Linked DNA regions of Homo sapiens. The protein of the gene in region 2 interacts with the protein of the main gene of each other region in a pairwise test. Each region holds a gene or a part of one and is shown on either strand. Other genes may lie near its edges.

The links.
Region 1: the proteins of FNBP1L (region 2) and SGSM2 interact in a two-hybrid assay, tested with the Homo sapiens proteins (one large-scale study listed by BioGRID and IntAct).

What each region holds. Positions count from the first base shown.
Region 1 is NC_000017.11:2,364,706-2,368,523, reverse strand, and holds part of SGSM2 (small G protein signaling modulator 2), read right to left. Parts: intron 3,628-3,818; coding exon 3,467-3,627; intron 3,310-3,466; coding exon 3,183-3,309; intron 3,022-3,182; coding exon of another isoform or gene 2,885-3,021; exon of another isoform or gene 2,858-2,884; intron 2,150-2,857; exon of another isoform or gene 1,711-2,149; intron 1,486-1,710; coding exon of another isoform or gene 1,464-1,485; exon of another isoform or gene 1,368-1,463; intron 1,360-1,367; coding exon of another isoform or gene 1,294-1,359; exon of another isoform or gene 1,260-1,293; intron 1,254-1,259; coding exon 1,119-1,253; intron 1-1,118.
Region 2 is NC_000001.11:93,548,924-93,552,263, reverse strand, and holds part of FNBP1L (formin-binding protein 1-like), read right to left. Parts: intron 2,987-3,340; coding exon 2,838-2,986; intron 1,318-2,837; coding exon 1,159-1,317; coding exon of another isoform or gene 1,139-1,158; exon of another isoform or gene 1-1,138. UniProt on the Homo sapiens protein: Required to coordinate membrane tubulation with reorganization of the actin cytoskeleton during endocytosis. May bind to lipids such as phosphatidylinositol 4,5-bisphosphate and phosphatidylserine and promote membrane invagination and the formation of tubules.

The DNA.
Region 1 (3,818 bases), on a different chromosome or scaffold from region 2:
CTGGGCTTCCCGGCAGAACTTTGGAAGCCTAAGGGGAGTGTGACATATTCTGAGGACATCCTCTGCAGGGGCGGGGAAAGGGAGAAGCAATTGATTTTGTAGCATGGGAATGGGTGGGAATGGGGAAGCTCCCCTCGTCTCTGGGAGAACTGGCCTCAGCCTCTTCCTACCCACCCCTTTCTGGAGCACCCATCCCAGCCCTCACAGGTCGCCTGGCTGATTGCTTGCTGAAAAGAGGGGGGCTCCCTCTCTACCAAGCCAGCTCTGTGCTAGGAAAGATGGGTGGTAGGCAGAGGAACCCTGAGAGGCTGAGGGCACTACGCTATCACCTCCAACAAAGGTGACCTCTCCATTCGTGGACCCTGAGACTCATGAGGGCAGGAACACATCTGTCTTATATCCCTGGCGCAGGTGAAGAGACGGAGCTCCGGGATAGTGAGAAACTTGCTCAAAACCACACAGTGAACCAGGGGCATATCTGGGGCGGGAGTTCATGTTGCCAGGCCCTGAGCCTGGCCCCTTCCTGGACACCATGCTGCAGCTATTTCTAGATTTCATGCCAAAGTACCAGGCCCTGCCGGCTGGGGCCCTCAGGCCTCCTGGGAAGACTGAGCCCTGGGGCCCTTCGCATGGCAGCCCTCAACCCCTCGCCTGACCCACAGCTGCTGCCCCTGCCCCAGGAAGGACCCGGTACCTCCATCCTGTTTCTGTTAAGTCAGGAGTCAGAAGCACCAGGCCCAGAGGCTGGTCTTCCCAATCAGCAGAGAGAAAGGAAGAGACCTCTGTCTGGCATTTGCCAGCCTGACCCCCGGAGTAGGAATGGGCTCAGAGATCCATTCAGGGTGCCCAGGAGGCAATCAGATAATCAGACCTTCCTATTAGCAAATCCTCTTCCTCCTCACAGCCTGGAGCCACCTGCCCTGGGCCAGCCCCTTTTCTTGCCAGCACCTGTCTGGCCTCCTTCTGCCCTCCCTGATCTGCCCCCGATGGAAGGGAACTGCCCTGGGTGCAAGTCCCCTAATGCCAACACTGCCGTTCGAACCCCTGTGGTGGGTGGCAGGCGGGCCCGGGAGGGAGGGTGGGGATGAGGTGGGTCAGGGAGAGGGAGGGATAAGAACCTTTCATCGGATTGGGAGCTGTGAGGTTCCGCGAGCAGATCATTGAGAGCATCGCGTGCAGTTTATCCTCCTCTTCCTCATCATCGTCCACCGAGGCCGCGCGGCTGGCCGCTAGGTGGTGGTAGTTAATAGTGACTGCTCAAAGAGAACAGCGAGAGGCAGAGGCATGAGGCCCTCATCCCTGGGCAGGACGGACTCCCTCCTTAAGGGGAGTGGAATGGAGGCCGGGGTCATCGTGAATCTGCAGGGCACAGAAGAGGGGAAGGGAGGGGACCAGAAAGCTCTTTGGATGATTTTCCTGGGAGAGTGTGGAAGGAGGCGAGGGGCTGGGGCAGCTGCAGAACCTCACTCTTCGGAGGCAGCCTCTCTAGGAAGAACAGAAGAGAGAGAACAGAGGTGGGAGGATGTGAAAGACCGGGACTGTCTGGGATGGGCTGGCAGCCCAGGAGGTCATCGGCCCTCACAGAGGCTGCGCATGACAGCTGGCAGATGGGTCCTGATCGTTCTCTAGCTCCTCTCAGGCTGGACCAAATCTGAAGATTACTCCAAATCCCCTTTTTCAGACTATAAATTCCACCTTCTTCCCTCCCAGGAAAAGGAAAGGGTTTTCCCAGAGCTGTCCTCAAGGAGCTGGAGTCGCTTGGTGGAGTTTCAGCCTCTGGGTGCCCTGGCTTGCCCTTGGCGAGGTGGTCCTGGAAGTGAAGTGACCAGGACTGGGAAATGGCAAAGATCGAAGAGGGGAGGCAGAGACTGGAGAAGCTAAACCAAGCAACAGCCTGAGACTAAGTGCCAAGTGTGTAAATACATTCTGGCCAAAGATGCGTCTCTTTGTCAGGTACATCTGGGAAGGGGGGACATCCCTGTGCCGTGTGCCCTCTGAGCCTGGTGGAGCTATCTGTGCTGTGGCTGAGTGTGCCGTCTGGGCAGTCCGGTCCCTAATACAGAGACAACTTGTTGACAACTTTTTGGCACAAGTTGGAAATTTAGGGAGCGGGTGGTCTTGTTAGCAATAAACGCTCTGGGCTGGCAAATTCCCCGACCTTATCTGTAAGAAAAGCAAGTCTGCCCAGAGAAGCCTATGGGCAGCAGCAGCACTCTGACCAGAAAGGGAACTTTGGTGTTGGTAGATGCACATAGACAGAGAGACCCCCTTGGGCCCAGGGGTGTGTGTCCAGGGTGGGGCAGGACCCACAAGGGCCAAGCCGCCTTTCTACCCGCCAGTGCCCAAAGCCCCCAGGCAGCCCCGAGTCTGCCTCTGATGCAACCTGCTACTTCAGCTAACGCTCATCAGTAGTTGGTTTGAGGAGGGCTCTGGCTCTAGGGGAGTCAGCAGACAATATTCACCATCCAAAAAGAAGCGCTGGGCCGGGCGCAGTGGTCACGCCTGTAACCCTAGCACTTTGGGAGGCTGAGGCAGGCAGATCACAAGGTCAGGAGTTTGAGACCAGCCTGGCCAATATGGTGAAACCCCATCTCTACTAAAAATACAAAAATTAGCCGGGCATGGAGGTGTGCGCCTGTAATCCCAGCTACTCAGGAGGCTGAGGTAGGAGGATCGCTTGAACCCAGGGGCAGAGGTTGCAGTGAGCTGAGATCACGCCATTAAACTCCAGCCTGGGTAAAAGAGCGAGACGTCGTCTCAAAAAAAAAAAAAAAAAAAAAGTAGCGCTGGTCCCATACCCAGGCTGTCTTGTAGGGGTTGGGGAGCAGGAGGTGAAGAGCAATGGAGGGTTCCCCACCTTCTACTTCTCGTTTCTCCACGTGTTTTACCCCTGGACAGGGTCTGAAAGGATAACTAAGAGTCTTGTGTAGTGACGCCTAGGTCTGCTGAGCCAAGAGTCCTGGCGTGGAGAAGTGGGGAAGGGAGCTGGGTAGAAGAGACGCACCTTTTCAAAGGCAATATCTGTGGGTAAAAGGTCCAGCTGAGAGGCTAGGCGATGAGCCTCTGGTGTTAACCTGGCCTGGTCAGTGGGCCCTGCCTGCTGCCCTCCTGGGTGACGCTGCGCTCCCCGCCTCCCAGAGCGTCTTCCTCTCCTCCCCCGGGATGAAGCTCGGGACACTCACTGTGCTCGTGCCTGTGGCCGGGGTAGATGATCCGGAACACATAGTCGGTGGCCCGCCCCGTGCCCATCTCCTCCATATCCACGGAGCGAATGCTGCTTCGTTTCCGTAGCTTGGGGAACACTTTCCCCTGTGGAAGGAGGGGTAGGTGGTCGGGCTGTATAGGGCAGAGTCTCATCCAGGGTTCCACACAAGGCCGCTCCTAAGAACTCCACGTGGGGAAGGAAGGGAGGCGGGCAGAGAACCCCACACACAGCCCTTCCCCTAAAGCCTCCCACCCGAGTTACCTTCCCTTGCTGGGTCCACAGCGGGGGCTCTAGCTGTCCCCGAGGCAGCAGCCCATTCTCCAGACAGGACAGAAAGGACAGCAGGTGTCCTCCCTGTGGGAAATGCAGCGGCGGCCTCTGGATGCCATCCTGGCTCACCAGCACAAGCGTGCCACCGCTCTCTGGGGGTGAACGTGGAGAGTGCGGCTGAGGCCCTCTCGTCGGCTATCACACCCTGCTGGCCAGTGCCCCCAGGCTGGGTAGGAGGCAGATGGCTGGGCTACAGCATGGCCTGGGAGCCCCATTAACAAGGATGGGAGGAGGACGAGGAGTCTTACAGGCCCCACGCACAGTGCACAGCTGGCAGAAGGCA
Region 2 (3,340 bases):
GGCAAAATTAAAAACCAATCTTACTGCTTCTTCACACTTTACTTCCCCACACCACTGACTCAGGGTGTGGTCACACAACCAGCACTGCACAATCCTTGACTGCACAGTGTTTCCAACAACGCTTGCTGAAACTAATTGGAAAAATTTATCTATCCTAATAACTAATGATTCAGCGGAAATAACAAAATGCCCTAAAGGCGGTACACATATCTTCCTCTAACCCAGATAGTCAAAAAGTTTCTCCTTTAAAAATTAAAATTTGTCAACACTTCCCCTCCATTCAAGGTTTCCTCTATCTTCAAATGTGTATTTTTCTATGTAACTGTGTATTTTCCTATGTGTAACTGCTAAATGCTAAATAATCACTAAAGTGGTATTTCCCAAAAGATATTTTCAAGATGAAACATACAAAAGTATGAGATTAGTTTGGAAGGAAGCTTGTAAATTATTGAAAATTACCAGCTAACCTCAAAATATTTTGAGGTCTCAAACAAAATCTATTTTATTCACCTAAGAGCTAGACCAGGAGATTTATTTTGAAACTCTCTTTAAATCTACTTAAATAGATTATGTGCTACCTGCTCATTTTCTTCCTTTAGGAAACCAAAGTTAAGAATAGGTAAGAAAATGAAAATGATGTTATTATTTTACTAAATTATCCAACTACTATTTTTCTTCTTGGAAACTGTAGCTACAAATTCAAACTTCTAGAAGAAACCACTCTTTGGGGAGTCGGCTTTCCATAGCATTTCAGAGCAGTTTCACTATTCAAATTCACTAAAGTCACTGTGTTTTCTGAAGTAAAGGGGGCAGAGAGCATTACTATCCATGAATTCCTGCCCAATAAATCAAATTCTATTTGTAAGGCAGAAAAACACAAATCCTTCACACAGACTTAAGCGGGACATAAAGCAAAAGGCATCAATTAAGCTTCACACCAACGTTACTCAAACAGTAAAGTGCCACAAAATGTTTCTTGTGGTAATATTCACAAGATCAAGCCTACACTCAGCTCACATAGTGAACAATTAATCTTGGATGCCCTTTAAGTTTCCTTATTTTTTTCAACCTGTTGAATGTGTTTTCATTTTATGTTACTCTTCCTATGTCACACATGGCACAAAGGTGCCTGGTTAGTTTAGATATAAGTTACTGCACCTTTACTGTTTTTCTCTAGAGTTACATCTATGTATGACGTGGGAACGTAGCCTTCTTCACCGTTCTGTCTCCGAGCTCTTGTCCATCCGTCACCTTTGTCCTCCTCTATAATGTAGAGAACTTCACCTTCTTTCATTGCTAGAGTACCTTCATTATGTCCTAGATGAGAGTTTTCACAAGCATAATTTAAGCATTGTGATAATTTTTTTTAAAGTTACTAATACAATGCACAAAATACAATGAAACCCTACTAGATTTCAATGTACCTGGAACTACTGACTCTCACTAGCAACATCTCTATTGTGCTTTGTGGCTTACCCAGCACTTTCATATACATTCTCTCATTTGAGCTGCATAATAAGCCCGCAGGGCTGGATAACATCACCCCCATGTAACGGATGAAGTTAACTGAGTCACAGTGACATTACATGATTTGACAGGGTATTCTAATTCCTATGTCACTATTCCAACTCTTTTCCCAAATTTTAGTAGTCTATCTAAAAAAATTCAGCAGGTATGGATTAGGAAAACAGTAACCAGATAGCAAAAGAGCAGGAAGAAAGAAGGAAAAAAGAGAGTCTGAAGGGAGAACAGAGAAAAATACGGGTTTGACTCTAGAGATGGTAGAAACAGAATGGCCATACACAACTCTTTCACTCTCTATCCCCAACCACGCCCAACCTGCTTAGCAGTAACAATTTTCACAACTGAATCTTCATTTAACACGTGCCAAATTGCTTCCCTACTCTCTAGATTACATTATAGCAAGTTTGTTTTCTTTTGTTTTGTTTTAGAGATAGGGTCTTACTGCCCAGGTTGGATTCGAACTCCTGGGCTCAAGCAATCCTCTCACCGCAGCCTCCCAAGTGTCTGGGACTATAGGCACACATCACTGCACTTGGCTGCAAGGTCTTAAATTTAATATATTTTCTAATAAGAAGTAACTAGAGACTTTGCTCAATTTTAAACCAACACGAAGTGGGGAGAAAGACCTTAAATCAAGCACCATTTTACAACCGTTTATTTATGAAAGTGTCGCTCAGTTCTCCTGTTAGTTGAGGGAAAGTATTTTTCACAGTCCAGGATAAAGAGGAACTAAAAATCTGCAGGAGAAGGCCTCAGTGCCTTACTTCCCTTCCAGAGTTTGTTCTTCAACTTTCATAGAGTAAGAGATAACATAGTCAGTAGCTACTACATTCTCTCCCACTTTCATCTAAACAGGTGGCCTACGGACTCAGTATATGATGATGGCATTCAGCTAGCTATGCCTTGTACCTGTCTCTTAATGTTAGTAAGCTACAAGGAAGAGCATGAAGTGGCATCCGCCAGCATCCCGCTTCCTGGGTTGAGCTACATGTTCAAGCTGCCTCGACTTTGTTTAGGACATGTGCACAGTAAGGACTCTGGTGAAAATTCTGCACTGACCAAAATTGATAATTAATTAATAATCTGTATTAGGATGCTAGTAACGTGGGCAATTTCCTTTTAATTCCATGTACGGAAGAAAAATATCTACATTTGTAATACAGTTATAACAAAAGTATGCATACTAAAGAAATGGGATAATAATTTTCTGACAACATATATTACTTAAATAAGGATACTACAGTGAGTGACTTGATGTAAATACTTTTAAAGAACCAATTTTTTTACATACAATATTATTAAGAAAATCATACCATCAAAAGGGTAGATAGCTTTGCAGTGTCCAATAGCAGGCAAGGGATCATCATCCTCAAATTCATCATCAAACTCATTGTGGTGACCATGCTGCTGGGGTGGCCCACGGACTTCCTGGTTTGCATCATCAGTGTAACTTCCCTCAGGACTATAAAACAAAAAATTATCTCTGATCAAGTATCATAAACATGAGAATTCTATATATTATTTATAAATTGATCACCTCAGGATCAATTCCAAAAATTAAATATTAATGACACAGTTTCCACTTAAGCCCTATTTTTTTCAAATGTCAAGTATACAAATTACTTCTAATACAAAATGCTGCTTTGCTGAATTTCCTGAATTAAAAAAAAATTACAAGATTACAATATTCTAGGCACAAAGTATTATTCAGTAAATACACCTCACTATCACTCGGTCTAGACATAAAACAGAAAAACGTTCTAGACCCTTGTCTTCCATCATCCCAAATTTATCATCCTAAAATTCCTTAAGGGAT